4 separate regions of the Homo sapiens genome follow, and regions 2, 3 and 4 are each reported to be linked to region 1. Evidence: microRNA targets listed by miRTarBase, many of them from high-throughput screens and not tested one by one. Region 1 holds a microRNA gene; each other region holds the end of a gene's coding sequence.
The links. Region 1 holds the annotated microRNA hsa-miR-28-5p (AAGGAGCUCACAGUCUAUUGAG, at 1,184-1,205, shown strand). A microRNA usually pairs through its seed, bases 2 to 8, with sites in the 3' UTR of a target mRNA and lowers its output. Matches are read on the target gene's strand: a 7mer-m8 pairs with bases 2 to 8, a 7mer-A1 pairs with bases 2 to 7 and ends in A, and an 8mer does both.

Region 1 (4,148 bases):
TCAGTTAAACCTCTTTAGAAATTACCCATTCTCAGGGAAGTTTTTTATAGCAGTGTGAAAATGGAGTAATTCAATGACCCTTTCTTACTGACTCATTGGTCTGATTTCTTGACCAAAGCTCTGAATATTCCCATGTCATCCTGTCTAACCAGCTGTCTTATACTCTTTTTTTTTTTTTTTTTGAGATGAAGTCTCGCTCTGTCGCCCAGGCTGGGGTGCAGTGGCACGATCTCGGCTCACTGCAACCTCCACCTCCCGGGTTCATGCCATTCTCCTGCCTCAGCCTCCCGAGTAGCTGGGACTACAGGCGCCCATCACCATGCCTGGCTAATTTTTTTGTATTTTTAGTAGAGACGGGGTTTCACCACGTTATCTTATTCTTAACAGTGTCTGAGGTATTTTTTTGAAACACAATTCTTACCTTAACTGCCCCAGGCACCACGGCAGAAGAACCATGACCTTGCTGAGAGGCACTGCATGCCAAATGAGACTTAGTTTTTCCAAAGTACTTGGGAGAAGAAAAACAATAATCTATATGATGGGCTTTTGGCCTAAACCCATATCCTTTAGATGACGGAATTTGGCACAGCTCATATTCTGGTTTAAAGAAAAATGTTTTGTTATGATGTCATTTGCCTAATTAATAGCAAAAGAGGATTGAATTTTCCCTATGCAATGTCATCTAGCCTTTGAGATTTTAGAGTTAATGACTCAAATCAATTGTCCTGTCTTCTGTGAAACCTTCCTGATGCCTTCAGTTGGATAAATCTACCCTTGGTGTTCATAAGGCATTATATTGATGCCTCTGATGTTATGCAGATATATCCCTTCTTGGCTTTGTTTGCCCATTCAATGAACATTTGTTGAACACCACCTATATGCCAAGATAGTTGGAAGATGGAAGTGTGGTACACAGAGGATGTGGAAGGGAATCACAGAAGATGAGACTATGAAGGCAGGCCCTTCAAGGACTTTCTAAGTAGTACTCAGGAGTTTGACAAAGAGGAGCTAGAAGAGGTTTGTGAAGTCAGATGAGTAATATAATTAGGTTTGTATTTTATGAAGGGCAACATCTAAATATGGCTTGTCTATTCAGCAAGCACTTATTAAGTGCCTTTTGCATGGTAGACAACATGCTTGATGCTGAAGATACAAGAAAAAATTTAAAATGGTCCTTGCCCTCAAGGAGCTCACAGTCTATTGAGTTACCTTTCTGACTTTCCCACTAGATTGTGAGCTCCTGGAGGGCAGGCACTTTCGTTCATCTGAAAAAGAGCTTAAATTTCAGTGTTAATCCTAGATTACAATCCCGCCTCTATTATTTTAACTTTGTTCACATCTGTTAACTGCTCTGAAAATCAGAGCTAATACTGCCTACCTCATCAGGGAAAGATTAAACGAGAAAAGAATGAGATGTGATTGACACAGCAGGAGCTCTGTGTATGCTATTTCCTCCTCTATCTCTGTGCCTGGTACATGGTAAACATTCAGGACACTTCTGCTGCCTGCTTGGCTGGAGAGCCTGTCTATGCAGCCTCAGTGTTGGGAGGATTTGAGCCTGGGGTCGGCCTGGCACCCAGCTATGGTAGTTAGCAAATCTATCCTCAGCTCAGTCAGTGATCAAATCACTGGCTCTAGGCTGTAAACTAACAGGGCCAGAATTGGGTTCTGGACTCTGAAGCCCAGGCATGCATATTGCAAAAGTCAGAATCGAAGTCATAGGAAAATGATGAAATTTCCTTTCTGGCCAGAATGCTATTATTTCACCAAGGGCAACAAATCTTCTTGGCAGGAAAAGTTGACTTGCTTGTGCTTTGTGTAATCAATTGTATTTGCAAGTGATGGAGTCCTTCTCACAGTGGCTTAGAGGAGGTGTTAACCACTATTCTACTCTCTACTTCCATGAGATCAACTTTTTTAGATTCCACACTTGAGTGAGATCATGCAATATTTATCTTTCTGTGCCTGGCTTATTTCACTCAACATAATGTCCTCCAGGTTTGTTTGACATTTCATTGTTTTCGGAGAATTTTCACAGTTCATTATCTCACTTCACAGTTCCTAATAGTCTCTCTGAGGTCCATATGGTAAGAATTAGTACCCTTTACTATATTTGTTGAATCACAAGTGAGCGGAGGAATGGGTATAGTTGAGACCCACAGAAGTGAAGTGACTTGCCCAAATCCATATAGCTTATTATGCTACCTGTTTGTTAGAGGTTTCCTGTTGTATCAGAAACTAGTGAGATAAATATTAGTAATTTTTGTCCCATTGACACATGATGGTATATCAGGAATTCTGAGCTCATTTTTTTTTTTTGGCTCAATAAGTGACCTTAGAAAATCCAGAATGGGATTTTTAAGTTGAATATCCTTCTCTGACCTGTGAAATCACTGCATCTGTTTCCCTGACTTTATCACAAGGTAACCCAAGATATTGCCAATATTTACATGTGACAAACTCTGAAAGATGTGCATAATGCTCCCAAAGGTCATCATCTTCATACCTACCTTATAAAGTGCAAATGGAATTGACCTAGTCTAGAATAAGCAGGCGAGATGCAGAGAGATTATGTGACATAGCTAGGTCATGTGACTAGTATGCAGCAGGCTTGGGGCATAAATCCTAGTCCTCTGGCTCCCGAGTCCAGTGTTCATTACGCTATGTGACATGTCAGTATTGCTGTTTGCTCGGGGTTAGGCTTTTCCTTTGGAGGTTAGAGCTTGATAACTCTAAATCGATAAACTTCTTAGTATGCCACAGTAATGCTAGCAGAAAGTATTTGTTGAAGCAAAAAATATGTTGTTTCAAGGGGTCTGCTCCCTGAAAGATAAGTTTTTTTCTTTATTTGTGGTTTTACATCTAATTTTTCTAATGTTTCAAAAAACATTCTGTGTTCCTTTAATCTACAAGTTGGAATGGATACGGTGCCCTAATTTTCGTGTTCCCTTTGAGCACAAGCAATAACACATTTTAAAGGATGATAAATAGCTGTGTAAAATGTAGATGGGTTCTATAAATACTTACCAAAATCCCTGTAGTCAGACCCTGGTAGAAGGAGAGAATAGTCAAAGTGTTCTCTCTTTCCACATTCTTCTTCTTCTTTTAGGGGTAGTTTGGTAGTTAAGAACACAGTTGCTAGACCCAGACAGACTCAGACTTGAGTCTTGCCCTACCTGTACTACCTGTTAGATTTTAGGGAACTCCTTAATTTTCATGGGCCTCTATTTGTAGAAGGATGCTAACAATATTATGTGTAGTTTTTAGAACATTCATCTAGTATAATCCCTATACATTTTAAGTAGGTAATTATGGGTTATCTCTCATGACTGTTTTTATCTTCATCTGAGACCCTTTCTTTCTTCCTTTAAGATACTTCTATCCATATTTTTCCCTAGAGAGAAACAGTATTAGCTACTCCTGCCTGTCAGTTTAAGCTACTGTGTCATGACTATTTTGCATTTCTAAGTTTATCCTTACCTTTATCATCAAAGTGCTGACTAATGCAGTATCTGCCACCTTGTGCCTGCTCAGTAAATACAATTTGGGTTAAACTTTATTCATTTTTAGTTATGAGTGCAATATAATGACATAGCTAAAAGTTCGAAAGTAGAGAAGGGATAACAAATAGGTACTGATAATGCCACTCTTGTAATACTACATGTAGCTGACTGGTGAAGGCCATGGACTATAGAGTCATACTGGAATCCAGGCTTCAGTGCCTTGAGTGCTCTACTTAGAAATCTGTGCTTTAATTTCCTTAGCACTGAATGAGGGCAATAAAAGTAACCACCTAATCAAGATGCAGGGTGGATGAAATACATCTGAAGCATTTGGAGTAAGGCCTGGCCCAAAGGTTAGCTGTAATAATAAAAAGGTGGATGGTGACGATGTACATGATGATGGTTTGTGTGTCCCTTTATTCATATTGCCATTCACAAATTACTTGAGTAGTCCTACTTCTCCTGTTTGGTTTATTTGTTGCAAGAAACATGTGCATTAGAAGATTGAAGATGATTGCGCCCACTTGAGGAAACCGGACCCAGAGAGGTGAAATGATTTCCTAAATAGCACCCAGAAAGTTTATGATAGAGAGGAACATAGAACTCTAGCAGCCAGGCTGCTCTATTCTTATTTTCTCTATACTT
Region 2 (4,000 bases), not on the chromosome of region 1:
GACCCAGTCTGCAGAGCCCTTCTTAGGGTTGCCTGGGGGGAGCAAGAAAACCTGGAGCTTTCTTTGCACACATTTAATAATGGATCACTCAGTCCTTCACACTTTACTGAGAGAATCATTAGACTCAGGTGTCCAAGTCATCAGCTTGCTTTGAACTAGAACTAAACCTGCCAGTTGTCTGCTGAAGACAGAAATGACTCTTCTGGGCATGTAGGGGAGAGGACATTGTGGTGGTGGGGAGGGGATATTAATTTTGTCGATCTGGATCAGGTTTGGAGGGTAAGGAGGTTTAGATTACCAAGCTCCCCTAGAGGGCAGGGGAAGTGGCTTTATGGGCACAGAGTCCCAGGGGATTTAGTAGAGAGAACTGTTAAAGGCCAGTTTCTCTGCTATAAGATGTTGGGAGTGACTGGGCGAGGCTGGGGGTGACCACTGGTGCAGGCCCAGGATGGGGGCTACTTGAGTGTGCAAGAGAACCTCTTTTCCTCTGGTACCCCAGCTGGGACCGCAGCCAGAAGCGACGCAGACCCTCAGGGCAGCAAGGTGCCCTGAGGCAGGAGGAGAGCCAGCAGCCACTGACAGACCTGTCCCCGGCTGGAGTCACTGTGCTGGGGGCCTTCGGGGACTCACCTACCCCCACCCCTGACCATGAGGAGCCCCGAGGGGGACCCCGGCCTGGGATGCCCCACCCCAAGGGGGCTCCAGCCTTCCAGTTGAACCGGTGAGGGCAGGGGCAATGGGATGGGAGGGCAAAGAGGGAAGGCAACTTAGGTCTTCAGAGCTGGGGTGGGGGTGCCCTCTGGATGGGTAGTGAGGAGGCAGGCGTGGCCTCCCACAGCCCCTGGCCCTCCCAAGGGGGCTGGACCAGCTCCTCTCTGGGAGGCACCCTTCCTTCTCCCAGTCTCTCAGGATCTGTGTCCTATTCTCTGCTGCCCATAACTCCAACTCTGCCCTCTTTGGTTTTTTCTCATGCCACCTTGTCTAAGACAACTCTGCCCTCTTAACCTTGATTCCCCCTCTTTGTCTTGAACTTCCCCTTCTATTCTGGCCTACCCCTTGGTTCCTGACTGTGCCCTTTCCCTCTTCCTCTCAGGATTCCCCTGGTGAATCTGTGATGCCCCCAATGTTGGGGTGCAGCCAAGCAGGAGGCCAAGGGGCCGGCACAGCCCCCATCCCACTGAGGGTGGGGCAGCTGTGGGGAGCTGGGGCCACAGGGGCTCCTGGCTCCTGCCCCTTGCACACCACCCGGAACACTCCCCAGCCCCACGGGCAATCCTATCTGCTCGCCCTCCTGCAGGTGGGGGCCTCACATATCTGTGACTTCGGGTCCCTGTCCCCACCCTTGTGCACTCACATGAAAGCCTTGCACACTCACCTCCACCTTCACAGGCCATTTGCACACGCTCCTGCACCCTCTCCCCGTCCATACCGCTCCGCTCAGCTGACTCTCATGTTCTCTCGTCTCACATTTGCACTCTCTCCTTCCCACATTCTGTGCTCAGCTCACTCAGTGGTCAGCGTTTCCTGCACACTTTACCTCTCATGTGCGTTTCCCGGCCTGATGTTGTGGTGGTGTGCGGCGTGCTCACTCTCTCCCTCATGAACACCCACCCACCTCGTTTCCGCAGCCCCTGCGTGCTGCTCCAGAGGTGGGTGGGAGGTGAGCTGGGGGCTCCTTGGGCCCTCATCGGTCATGGTCTCGTCCCATTCCACACCATTTGTTTCTCTGTCTCCCCATCCTACTCCAAGGATGCCGGCATCACCCTGAGGGCTCCCCCTTGGGAATGGGGTAGTGAGGCCCCAGACTTCACCCCCAGCCCACTGCTAAAATCTGTTTTCTGACAGATGGGTTTTGGGGAGTCGCCTGCTGCACTACATGAGAAAGGGACTCCCATTTGCCCTTCCCTTTCTCCTACAGTCCCTTTTGTCTTGTCTGTCCTGGCTGTCTGTGTGTGTGCCATTCTCTGGACTTCAGAGCCCCCTGAGCCAGTCCTCCCTTCCCAGCCTCCCTTTGGGCCTCCCTAACTCCACCTAGGCTGCCAGGGACCGGAGTCAGCTGGTTCAAGGCCATCGGGAGCTCTGCCTCCAAGTCTACCCTTCCCTTCCCGGACTCCCTCCTGTCCCCTCCTTTCCTCCCTCCTTCCTTCCACTCTCCTTCCTTTTGCTTCCCTGCCCTTTCCCCCTCCTCAGGTTCTTCCCTCCTTCTCACTGGTTTTTCCACCTTCCTCCTTCCCTTCTTCCCTGGCTCCTAGGCTGTGATATATATTTTTGTATTATCTCTTTCTTCTTCTTGTGGTGATCATCTTGAATTACTGTGGGATGTAAGTTTCAAAATTTTCAAATAAAGCCTTTGCAAGATACTCGAGTCCCCTGGTTCTGCCTTCTGACCCCCGTAGAGAGGAGGAGAGGGGTGGGCAGCTAGGAGGAGGCACAGGATGAGGTGGGGACCCCCTCTAGACCTAAGTCACCTGCCCTCCTCTGACCTGGAGCTGGGGGCCAACTGGGGCTTTAACTTGGGACAAAATGGAAGGGAGCCATCCTGACGAGGAGCAGTGGTACAAGAGAGAAACTAGAATAGAAATCGTGGCTCACTTATTCCTTGCCAGGGAGGGTCAAGAGAGACCAAAAAAAGGGAGACAGAAGAAAAGGAAAGTTACATGGAAGGATAGGAGGTGGATCAAGGCGGAAGAGAGACCTGATAAGACAGACGGAGGGAGAAGGGGGAAAGGAGAAGAGAAAAATGGAGCAATGGAGAAAAGATGAGAGGGAGCCAGCCATCCGAAAGAAGCTGCCCTGCTTGGTTTATTTTCAGCTTTGCTCCCTAACCTGCCCCCACCCACAGCTGCCCCCCAAAAGCTGTGCAGAATCAGAAGCCCTGTGGTTAACTCGTTAGCTTTCCCTACTCTGCCCTCTCAGAGAGAGGCACTGCAGGGGTGTGGGGGTGGGATCAAGGGGTGTTTTTGGGGAGGGAATGCAGGCTGCCCAGCTGGGATCAGTCACCTCTCAGTCCCCAATTTCTAGGTTTGGCTCTTGTAACAGCCCTGTGAAAACCCACACATCAGCCTCTCAGCTGTTGCTAGGCTCTATTGCTATGGTAACCACCCAGGTCCCATCTATCCCCCCTCCCCCAATCTGTGCCCCACTTGCTCCCTGGAAATGCGGTGGCCCCAGGGAGGATAGGGATGATGTAGTGTACAAAAGGGTGGCCTGGGCTGCTCTGGACTGGATATGCCCCCATGCATTTATCTTTCAAGCTAGGTTAGGAATGTCTGTGTGTTGGTAGGTGTGTGCTTTAGGTGTTGGGAGCTTTACTGTGAGCTGAGGGAAGTGTGGCTGAGCCTGTGCAGCACATAATGCTGAGTGCCAGGAAGAGGCAGTGTATTTCTCAGGATTAGAGCAGTGTGTGCATTCAGGGCGTCACACTCCCTAAGAAAAGGACTGCTACAAGGGAAAGAAGCAGAGCTGGGCCAAGGATTGATGAACCAACTCAAAGCAGAGGTGCCCGGCAAACAAGCTTCTGAGGAGTCAACTCACTGGGGGCATGAAGATATCCCAGCAGGTGGCTGATGGGAGAGCGGGCTGGATAAAACCTGAGGGTACAGGATGAGGCATGGATGGTATACACTGTGGGCCGTGAGGGAGGGATCCAGATCCAAGGAGGGTGGGATAGGAAGCTTCATTAACCTTTCCTTCTTTCCCCACAGGAATCTAGTCCTTGTCAGGTGAGGGTGGGGAGAAAAGAGAAGCATTGGCACAGAAGGGGAAGGAGCTCAAGTGCCGGAGAGCACACTGGGCTCTCACCTTCAGCAAGGATCTCTCTTCAAAGGGACAGTGTGACCCGTGGCTCATCCATATGCAAAAGGCAAACATGAAGGCCCCTAATGAAGAGGGAATTAATTACTGCCTGATTAGACCACTGTTTCTCTAAATTTAAATAAATTAAAATACACCAGCAAGGTACTGGAAATCCTCACCTGTTCCCTCTTCCTAAATGTCCTCC
Region 3 (4,000 bases), not on the chromosome of region 1:
AGCCCCAGGCAGATGAGCACCACCAGCTGCAGAGCTGGACTCCCTCGAGGCCACAGGTAGCCACTCAGGAGGCGGAGCTTCCTGCCAAAATCTCGCCAGGTAGACTGTTGGGCTGCTGACCGAACCTAGGATGGTGAAACACGTAGGAAGGGAGCTCAGAAATCAAGTAAGTGCACTAGCCAGAAACCCTTCAGGGAAAAACCTATGGGGTTACAGCTCCCAGGTATCTCAGACCCACAAGTGATCCTTGATGGGGTCAGAAAAACTAAGTTGCAAACTGAGATTTGGAAAAGAAGCATTTCATTTTGGGGGAAGGAATGATGACAGGGAATGAAATGAAGAGACTCCAGGATTCAGAAACTGAGGTGGGGTCTGGTGCAGTGGCTCATGCCTGTAATCCCAGCACTTTGGGAGTCCGAGGCAGGTGGGTCACCTGAGGTCAGGAGTTCAAGACTAGCCTGGCCAACATGGTGAAACCCCATCTCCACTAAAAATACAAAAATTAGCCGGGTACACACCTGTAATCCCAGCTACTTGGGAGGCTGAGGCACGAGAATTGTTTGAACCCAGGAGGCAGAGGGTGCAGTGAGCTGAGATCGCGCCACTACACTCCAGCCTGGGTGACGGAGCAAGATTCCGTCTTAAAAACAAAAAGAGGCCAGGCGCAGTGGCTCACGCCTGTAATCCTAGCACTTTGGGAGGCTGAGGCAGGCGGATCACGAGGTCAAGAGATCGAGACCATCCTGGCCAATGCTGTGAAACCCTGTCTCTACTAAAAATACAAAACTTAGCTGGGTGTGGTGTCATGCACCTGTAGTCCCAGCTACTCAGGAGGCTGAGGCAGGAGAATCGCTTGAACCCGGGAGGTGGAGGTTGCAGTGAGCTGAGATCACGCCACTGCACTCCAGCCTGGTGACAGAGCAAGACTCCGTCTCCAAAAAAAAAAAGAAACTGAGGTGTACCTGGCTCCTTTCCACATCTTGGTCCTCTTCATGAACCTGCAATGTATAGGACTGGGGACGAAGTCCAGGGGCCCAGAGACCCAGGACAAACAGCCCTCCAGAGACCACATACCGCAGCACCCACAGGCTAAACTGAACCTAGAATGAAATATAAGTGGAGAGAGTATCATTGAGGATAAAATTTCATTGTATTACTACTTATAATAGGGCCGGGGACTGGTGTCATGAACACATTCAGCACTTACAGGCTTAAAAAAAAAAAAAAAAGCAAAACCACAGTGACTCAGCAAAGACACACCCCACCAGCTGGCTATCAGCTCCCGGCAGGACTCAGCCCCTCCCTTCTCCCTTTGCTTAGAGGCATCCTAAAGCCTGGAAGCAGTGTGACTGGACATGCAGTGCTTTCTCCCAAGCCCGGCCAGCAGAGGCTTCCCCCTTCCCACAGAGTCCCTCACCTGCTGGCCCAAGTCTGCCCTTGCCCACCACCACTGTGGGCTGTTCCAAGACACCAGGGCCAAGTTCTCAGCTGCAAACGCCACAGTCCAGAGGAGCAGGAGACCAGGGCTGTGCCTGAACTTGATCCAGATGCCCATTGCCAGACGCTGCCGTGCCTGGCTCCGCTCCACGACAAGCAGCCACAGGCCACAGGCGCCGGCCAGACTCTCCAGCACGGAGGCCAGAAGTAGATAGCTTGGCAGTGGGGCCCCCCGGGCAGTGCCCACCCGGCCAGCCAGGCCGGCCAGGGGCAGCGCCGCCTGAAGTGTGGCCAGAAGCAGCTGCAGCACGTAGGGAGAGATGCGAGGGCCGGCCCCCCAAGACAGCGAATCAGCACCAGCGGGCCGCTCCCGGCGTCTGCAGGGAAGAGCCAGCACCAAGGCCAGAGTCCCCAGAGCCATCCGCGTCGAGGGCACGAGCGTGAAGAAGAAGCAGGGACTCAGGCCATCCTGCATCCAGGCCGGACCCACGGGCCCTTCGGCCTCGCAGTAGTTGCCCACAGTCACCATGGCAATGCGTGGACGCCGGCCGAGGCTGCGGGCACTGCGGGACCGGAGGCCGGGACTGGTCACTCGGAGAGGGGCGCGGACATCCGGGTGCCTTGGCTCACGTAGCCGCTGGGCGCCAAGCTGCGGGGGTCCCGGGAAGGGACGCACGTGGACCAGGCCTCACCGCCCACTCCCCTAGCGCACGCGCCGCCGCCACGCACTCACGCAGGGCACGTACGCCGTCTCAGCACGGCCCCGCTGGCTCTGGGCCCGGGACCCTCCTGCCAACTGCAGGCCCACGGGAATGCTCGGTGTTGGACTCGCACCGCGCTCCACGGCTGTAGCCCCGCCCACAGCCCCTACCCACGGCTCCCATTGGCCAAATGTCTCCGAGGGGGGAGCGGGGGGAATGGTGCAGGCAACGAATGCAAATTAGAGAAGCAGAGCCGGCTTGGTCACGTGCCCAGGGCGGGAAATCTGACGACCAGGCCGAGCTGGAAACCTCCACGGAATCGTGGCTCGGGGCTGGAAACAGACCTCACGGAATCCTGGCTCGGGGCAGGACACAGACCTCCACGGAACTGTGGGTCGGAAGCTGCCCTTCCGCCAGCCGCCTTGCTCAGCGTATCTGAGCGACGGCCTAAACATACTTTCTTCTAGACCCCGGCAGAGTCCCCATCCCATTTCTCTTGTTCCCAGGATTCTAGCCGCGCGAGACAACAAGAAGTCTGGTCAAACTCCCTTTTTATTAAGGGTTATCAAGCTGTACACGGTCCCTACCCTGCTCCGCTCCGAGTTCGGGCAGCGCAATTCACCACTCTCCCAAAGCCGGACCACAGCTGGGTGAGGGGTGGGACAGAGAGTAGGAGCAGTCCCAGCATGCAGTGCAGCAGCCCAAAGCCTCGGGCGAGGCATCGCCCTTCATCCCCCTTCAGGGCACAGCGAGATGCGGGCCAGAGCTCTTTTGCTGGGACGCACACAGCCAAGGTCACCCTCCAGCCCGGTCTGTCCCATGTGCAGGTGATGGGGGGTACGATAAGCAGCAATGAGGGCCCAGGAAGACCTCAGTCTCCTGGGGGCCCATCCTAAAAGATGGCAAGGGCAGCAAAGTATTTCCATCCTGCTCCTACAATTTAGAAACCTTCTTTTTTAGTGTCAAAATATAGCGTTGAGGGGAGCTGGACGCTAGGGTCTTCACCCTAACGCAAAGCAAAAGCCGAACGGAACGGGAGCAAGCGAACAGAACAGGAGCAAGCAGCACACACAGGCCAGTGATGTGCAAGAAGCGGAGAGAGGTGAGCCGGCTGCAGCACTGGGCGAGAACTGCGGGTGAGGTAAGGGCCACAGCCTGACCTGCTCATCTATTGAGGGGGCTAGGGAAGGTTGCAGGGGTTGAGGGTCCAGGCCCAACCTCCCCACTCCACAGTTGGCACAGGTTCTCCCTGCTTGGCAGCTTCTATCGTGGGCAGCCCTCTGGGGACTTGCAGGGGTAGGTGTAAAGGTGGCAGTACTGGGGCTGGGCTGGGGGCCAGTTTCTAGCACCACACTCTGAGCCAAGGGGGTCCTGGGGATGAGGCTAGAGTCCCGTGTGCCCTCGGTTCCTAGGCCCCAAATTCCTCTCCTGGGGCTGTGGCAAGCCCAGTGTTGGCACCTCCCTTGGCCAGGCACAGACACACAAACACCACACACGTGGGGCCAGGGAACACTCAGAGGAGCCGTCCCATGGCAGGCAGACGGGATGGCAGGGCAGCGGTGGCCTCCATCCTGGGCCACAGGAACCCTGCTCAGCCTTGTCTATACCTGTGGGGAGAAAGGGTTGGTAATGGAGATAGTCTTCAGCTTCTGGTTGATACCTGCTAGCCCCATAGAAACCTAGAGGTAAAGGGACAGGAAAGGTTGATTCCTGGGGAGGTAAGGTAAGGAAAAACCAAGCCCTGCAGAGCAGTTGAGAAAAGAAGGGGTAGTGTGTTTTGGAAGGGAGGGTACAGTATCTCTGTGTGGGGGTGGGGCATATCTTCCTTCCCCTGAAAAGCTGTTACCTCACCCTGGAAGTTA
Region 4 (4,000 bases), not on the chromosome of region 1:
AAAGAAAAAAAAAGGTAAAATTAACAAATCCATATTAGTGTGAGCTGGGTGAGTAGTTTAGTCTGAAATGACAGAATATTCATTTTTCGTCTCTCTGAGATAGTGACCACACTGTCCTCACCAGGACTGGCAGGGGAAGCCCCAGGGCTTTGTGACCCTGTCCCTATGGGGCACCCTGGCGTCCAGTGGGCACTCCCCAGGGCAGCAGCCTGGTTTAAATGCCTGTTCCCCAGACCCCACAGTCAGACGGTAGAGAGGAGCCTCAGGGACATAGCCCAGTTCTTCAGGACCGTGGGCCACATGGGCTGCTTGACCTCTGACCACCAAGGAGGGAGTTTCTCAAGGACTGGCCAGGTTCTGTGCTGACAACTTCGTGCTTTTCATCGACAAAGCGAGTCATGCTGTCCCTTCCCCAGCTGAGCTGGCTGCCAACAGGCCCAGTGGAGAGCAGATTTGAGGTGGGGGTGAGGTCTGTTCCCCAAGCGCAGTGTTCTGGGCAGTGAGTTCTCTGTGCAGCAGCTGACGCCTCTTGGACACATTTCCACACAAAACACTTCTCAACTGTTCTCCCTCCTGCACTCTTCAGGGGCAAATACGCCTCTCCTTTCTGGCGGGTTATTTCTGGCCCTGGGAGTATGCTAGGCAATTCTAAGGATTGCCTTTGAAACAGTCTTTATTCAGCCAAGTACTTCTCACACCCCTAGGTCCTGTCCCCAGGGGTGAGCAGGGTCAGAGGAGGCTGGAGATGGGGTGGGCACAGAGAAGGAGAGTCAAAGATCTGACTGAGGAAGAAGCAGGTGGCCAGCCACCTGGGAGACTTCTGTGTCAGACACGGCGTTATGTCCTGGAGGAAGCCCATTGCGAGGGCTCAGCAAAGTTAACAGCAGGTATGCACCTGGAGACCAAGGAGGGCCTTGGAGCCTGGTGGGCAAAGGTGGCCCTTCAGTGGAATCATTCCCAACTCTGCACTCACCCTAAGCTTTCCAGTAACTACAGAATTCCAGAACCTGTTTGAAAGGATGTAAGATCTATAGCTACATTCTTTTTCTCCCCACTGGTCAAAATCTTACAGGATTTCTAAAGCTGTATTGAGATCTTGCCCAGTGCATTCAGACCAGATGGGAAACAACCCCTAAGAATTCCCCATGCTGGTGTTTGCTGTGTACGTTGGCCTGGGACCTCAAGGCTAGAATGCAACAATAATGACCATGCACAGACAGAACTGTCTCAGCAGCAAATGTCACACGCAGACCCAGAACTGCTTAAATACCAATTTATTGCAAACCAACACCAAGGAGCTGGAATAGCTTTGCAGGCTGGACACCTCACTCTCCTCGGGCCCTGGACAAGGGAAATGAGTCACCCCGCTTTCCTCGGACCTCAGCTGGTGGGACTTAGTGGCTGGCCAAACTGCGGCTGTTGTGTCTAAAAAGAGAAAACAGGCAGGGTGTGCCAGCTCTGGAGACTGGGCCAGTCCAGGGTGGTGGCTCAGGGCAGAGAATCACCCACCAGACAGCGTGGCTCAACGGGAGCAAGGCGCGCAGGGACAGGCTCCACAACCACACCAAGCACCGCAGTGTGGCACCGGGACCAGATGCAAGTGGCTGTTCCTGCCATGGGGCCAATACCCAATACTATCCCTCAGTCATTCTTCCTAGATATTGGTTTGCTGTTTATTAAAGCAGGGCAGGGAGTGGGGAGAAATGCAACACAGAATATAAAATCAGGCAAAACAAACACTAGTCACCATGGAAGTGAATGACTCTCAAAGTCTCCCAAATAACAAGGTGTAGGGCATCTCACACCACTGCATCACTTCTGGAAGACTACCCACAGGGTGGGGGCTGCAATGGGGGCCAACTCGGGAACTATAGAGAAGAGAGGAGACACACACCACAAGACCTCCTTTCATTAGGCAGGAAAGCTCTTGTGGGACAGTGGTGTGCAAATCCTAGGACCTCAATGGGAAGAACTCCAGGAAAAAAAATGACAAGTCTTTCTCAGGACCCCTCATAGATGACAAGAATTCTGCTCCCCAGGGTCGAGATCTCTTTAGAGGGGCTTCACCAGCTCAGTGGCAAATATCAGACAACAAGACTCTCACATTCCAAAGGGGGTATCTAGGGCCTTTTGCTCTCCTGTGATGATCGGAGCAACATGTTTGGACCCACAGAAGACTTCCCAGGAATGCTTTCTTACAAGGGGTGTCAGCCACCACTGTAAACCAGAAACAAACCACAAACTTACTCTCCAAGAGAGCCCCCACAACCCAAGTATCCATAGAGAGTGTGCAGGAGCGGGGACCTTCCCCTGACAATAGGCCCTCTTAGCATCTGCGGGCCTTGATTCTTGCTGGCCGTGCATGGTGCCAGGGTGCACTGCCCTGCTGTGTGGCTTATCCATGCTCTGAGCTTGACAGACAGGCAAATGGACAGTGCCGGTGGCAGCTGAACCATACTCCCGGCGATGGGCACCCAGAGCCCCTGTGAGTACTTGGAACACAGGCCTGAGGACCTGTCTCATAATCTCGTCTTTGCACCTTGGCTGGAGTCAGTCAGCAGCCATGGCTCAGGGCATAGGCTTGGGGGTCCTGAGGCAGTGACCAGTCCCTGGAGAACAGGTAAGATTGGGCCATAAGTTCCAAGGAGCACAGTCTGGCACCTGGCACAGAGGATGGGAAGAGGGGAGTCTTCACTCTCTTCTGGTTCAGTTGTGGTGGGACAGTGTGCCTTCACGCCCCATGCAGAAATTCCTCCTCTCCCAGAAGCCCTTCAAGGTCAAAGCTTCTCAGGACTTGTGGCTGTCGAGCTCTGCTGAGCTGATGGACATGCTGTGGTCTCCTCCTGAGGGCACCAGCTCTCCACTCCTGCCCACACTTTGACACCGTGCACCCAAAGAGGACGTCTTATGGGGAGCCAAGCACAGCATGCCATGCGTGGTGGCCGGGCTTGGTTCACTTCAACAAGAACCAAAGCAAGGTCGCCACAGTCAGAGAACAGAATCCCCGCTGCATCTGGACCTGAGCCCAGAACCTAGGCTTTCTCCGAACAACTAGAACGTGCAAACAGGGCTCCAGTCTCCACTGCTCTGACCATGAGGCTGAGGCAGGCAAAGCACATTTATAAGGGGATGAGCAAGAAGACCACGTGAATGCTCTCAAAAGAGGTCAAGGGGCAAGGAGTTTCCCAGAGCAGCCTCAGGCACAGCCATTCCTTGCTTGCCCTCATGCAAGCACAGAGCTTCACACACTTCAATGACTTCAGCTTCGCCTGAGAGTCCAGCAACAACTCCACATCCCAACCAGAAGACATGCAAGCAGAATAGCGTCAAAACAACAGCAAGCAGAGAGCAGGGGAGGAAAGACATGCTGCCTGCAGTGGCTGGTTGCTGTGGAGACAAAAGCATGTGATCCCAATTTGCTGGGATATCCTCTCCTGCATTTCAAACACCTTCACTCAGTGTCAGCCACAGCGGCCACCACATAGCAGCTGGCCCCGCACCTTCTCTGGAACAGTCTGGAGATGCAAGGTCAGGGTGGAAGGCCTGGTTCACCCTTGAAAGAAAGGATGGCTAGGGGTAAACAAGACGAGCAAGTCCCTGGAATGCAGGGAGCCAAGAAGGGCAGCCGAGGATAAGGCTCTGCCTCCCCACCGGCGAGGGTTTCCTTTCCTTCTGGTCATTAAAACTGCACAGCCCCCGGGGAGATGTTGAACATGGCAGGGTCGAATCGCTGGCCTCGGAAGGGAGAACCTTCAGCATCCCACCCCTTCTTCAGCATCTCATGGACTTTCTACAAACAGAAAATAGAGAGATTAAAGGGGATCACAACGCACTGTGTACTTTCTCCCAGAGCAGACTCTGACTGCAGGTAGAGAGCCTTCTTGCTTCCTCAGGGCTCAGGCACTTGCCTGGCAAGACCGGCTGGCCAGAGAACTGTACTACCCTGGAGCAGCCTTCGACCAAGGGAGGTACTGGGTGCCTGCCAATTTCTCTCCAAGAC

Region 2: miRTarBase lists PIANP as a target of hsa-miR-28-5p. Seed matches in the 3' UTR shown: 7mer-m8 at 867-873 and 7mer-A1 at 2,245-2,251.
Region 3: miRTarBase lists ATG9A as a target of hsa-miR-28-5p. Seed matches in the 3' UTR shown: 7mer-A1 at 2,809-2,815.
Region 4: the mRNA of NUDCD3 is a reported target of hsa-miR-28-5p. Seed matches in the 3' UTR shown: 7mer-m8 at 1,294-1,300.

What each region holds. Positions count from the first base shown.
Region 1 is chr3:188,687,611-188,691,758 of GRCh38, forward strand. It overlaps MIR28 (microRNA 28), which reads left to right and starts at 1,171; the gene lies at 1,171-1,256. The region is part of intron 7 of LPP (LIM domain containing preferred translocation partner in lipoma); the gene reads left to right.
Region 2 is chr12:6,692,151-6,696,150 of GRCh38, reverse strand. It overlaps PIANP (PILR alpha associated neural protein), which reads left to right. Exons shown (of 5, transcript NM_001244014.2): 5 at 500-2,360. The coding sequence ends at 725. Among named protein-coding and RNA genes, the nearest start is that of ZNF384, 4.8 kb to the right of the region's middle.
Region 3 is chr2:219,216,708-219,220,707 of GRCh38, forward strand. It overlaps ATG9A (autophagy related 9A), which reads right to left. Exons shown (of 16, transcript NM_001077198.3): 16 at 2,673-3,745. The coding sequence ends at 3,740. ABCB6 (ATP binding cassette subfamily B member 6 (LAN blood group)) reads right to left here and starts at 2,251. Exons shown (of 19, transcript NM_005689.4): 1 at 1,418-2,251; 2 at 963-1,100; 3 at 1-125. The coding sequence starts at 1,966. RefSeq lists an enhancer at 1,468-2,335 and a silencer at 1,581-1,690.
Region 4 is chr7:44,382,332-44,386,331 of GRCh38, forward strand. NUDCD3 (NudC domain containing 3) reads right to left here. Exons shown (of 6, transcript NM_015332.4): 6 at 1-3,790. The coding sequence ends at 3,680. Among named protein-coding and RNA genes, the nearest start is that of CAMK2B, 59 kb to the left of the region's middle.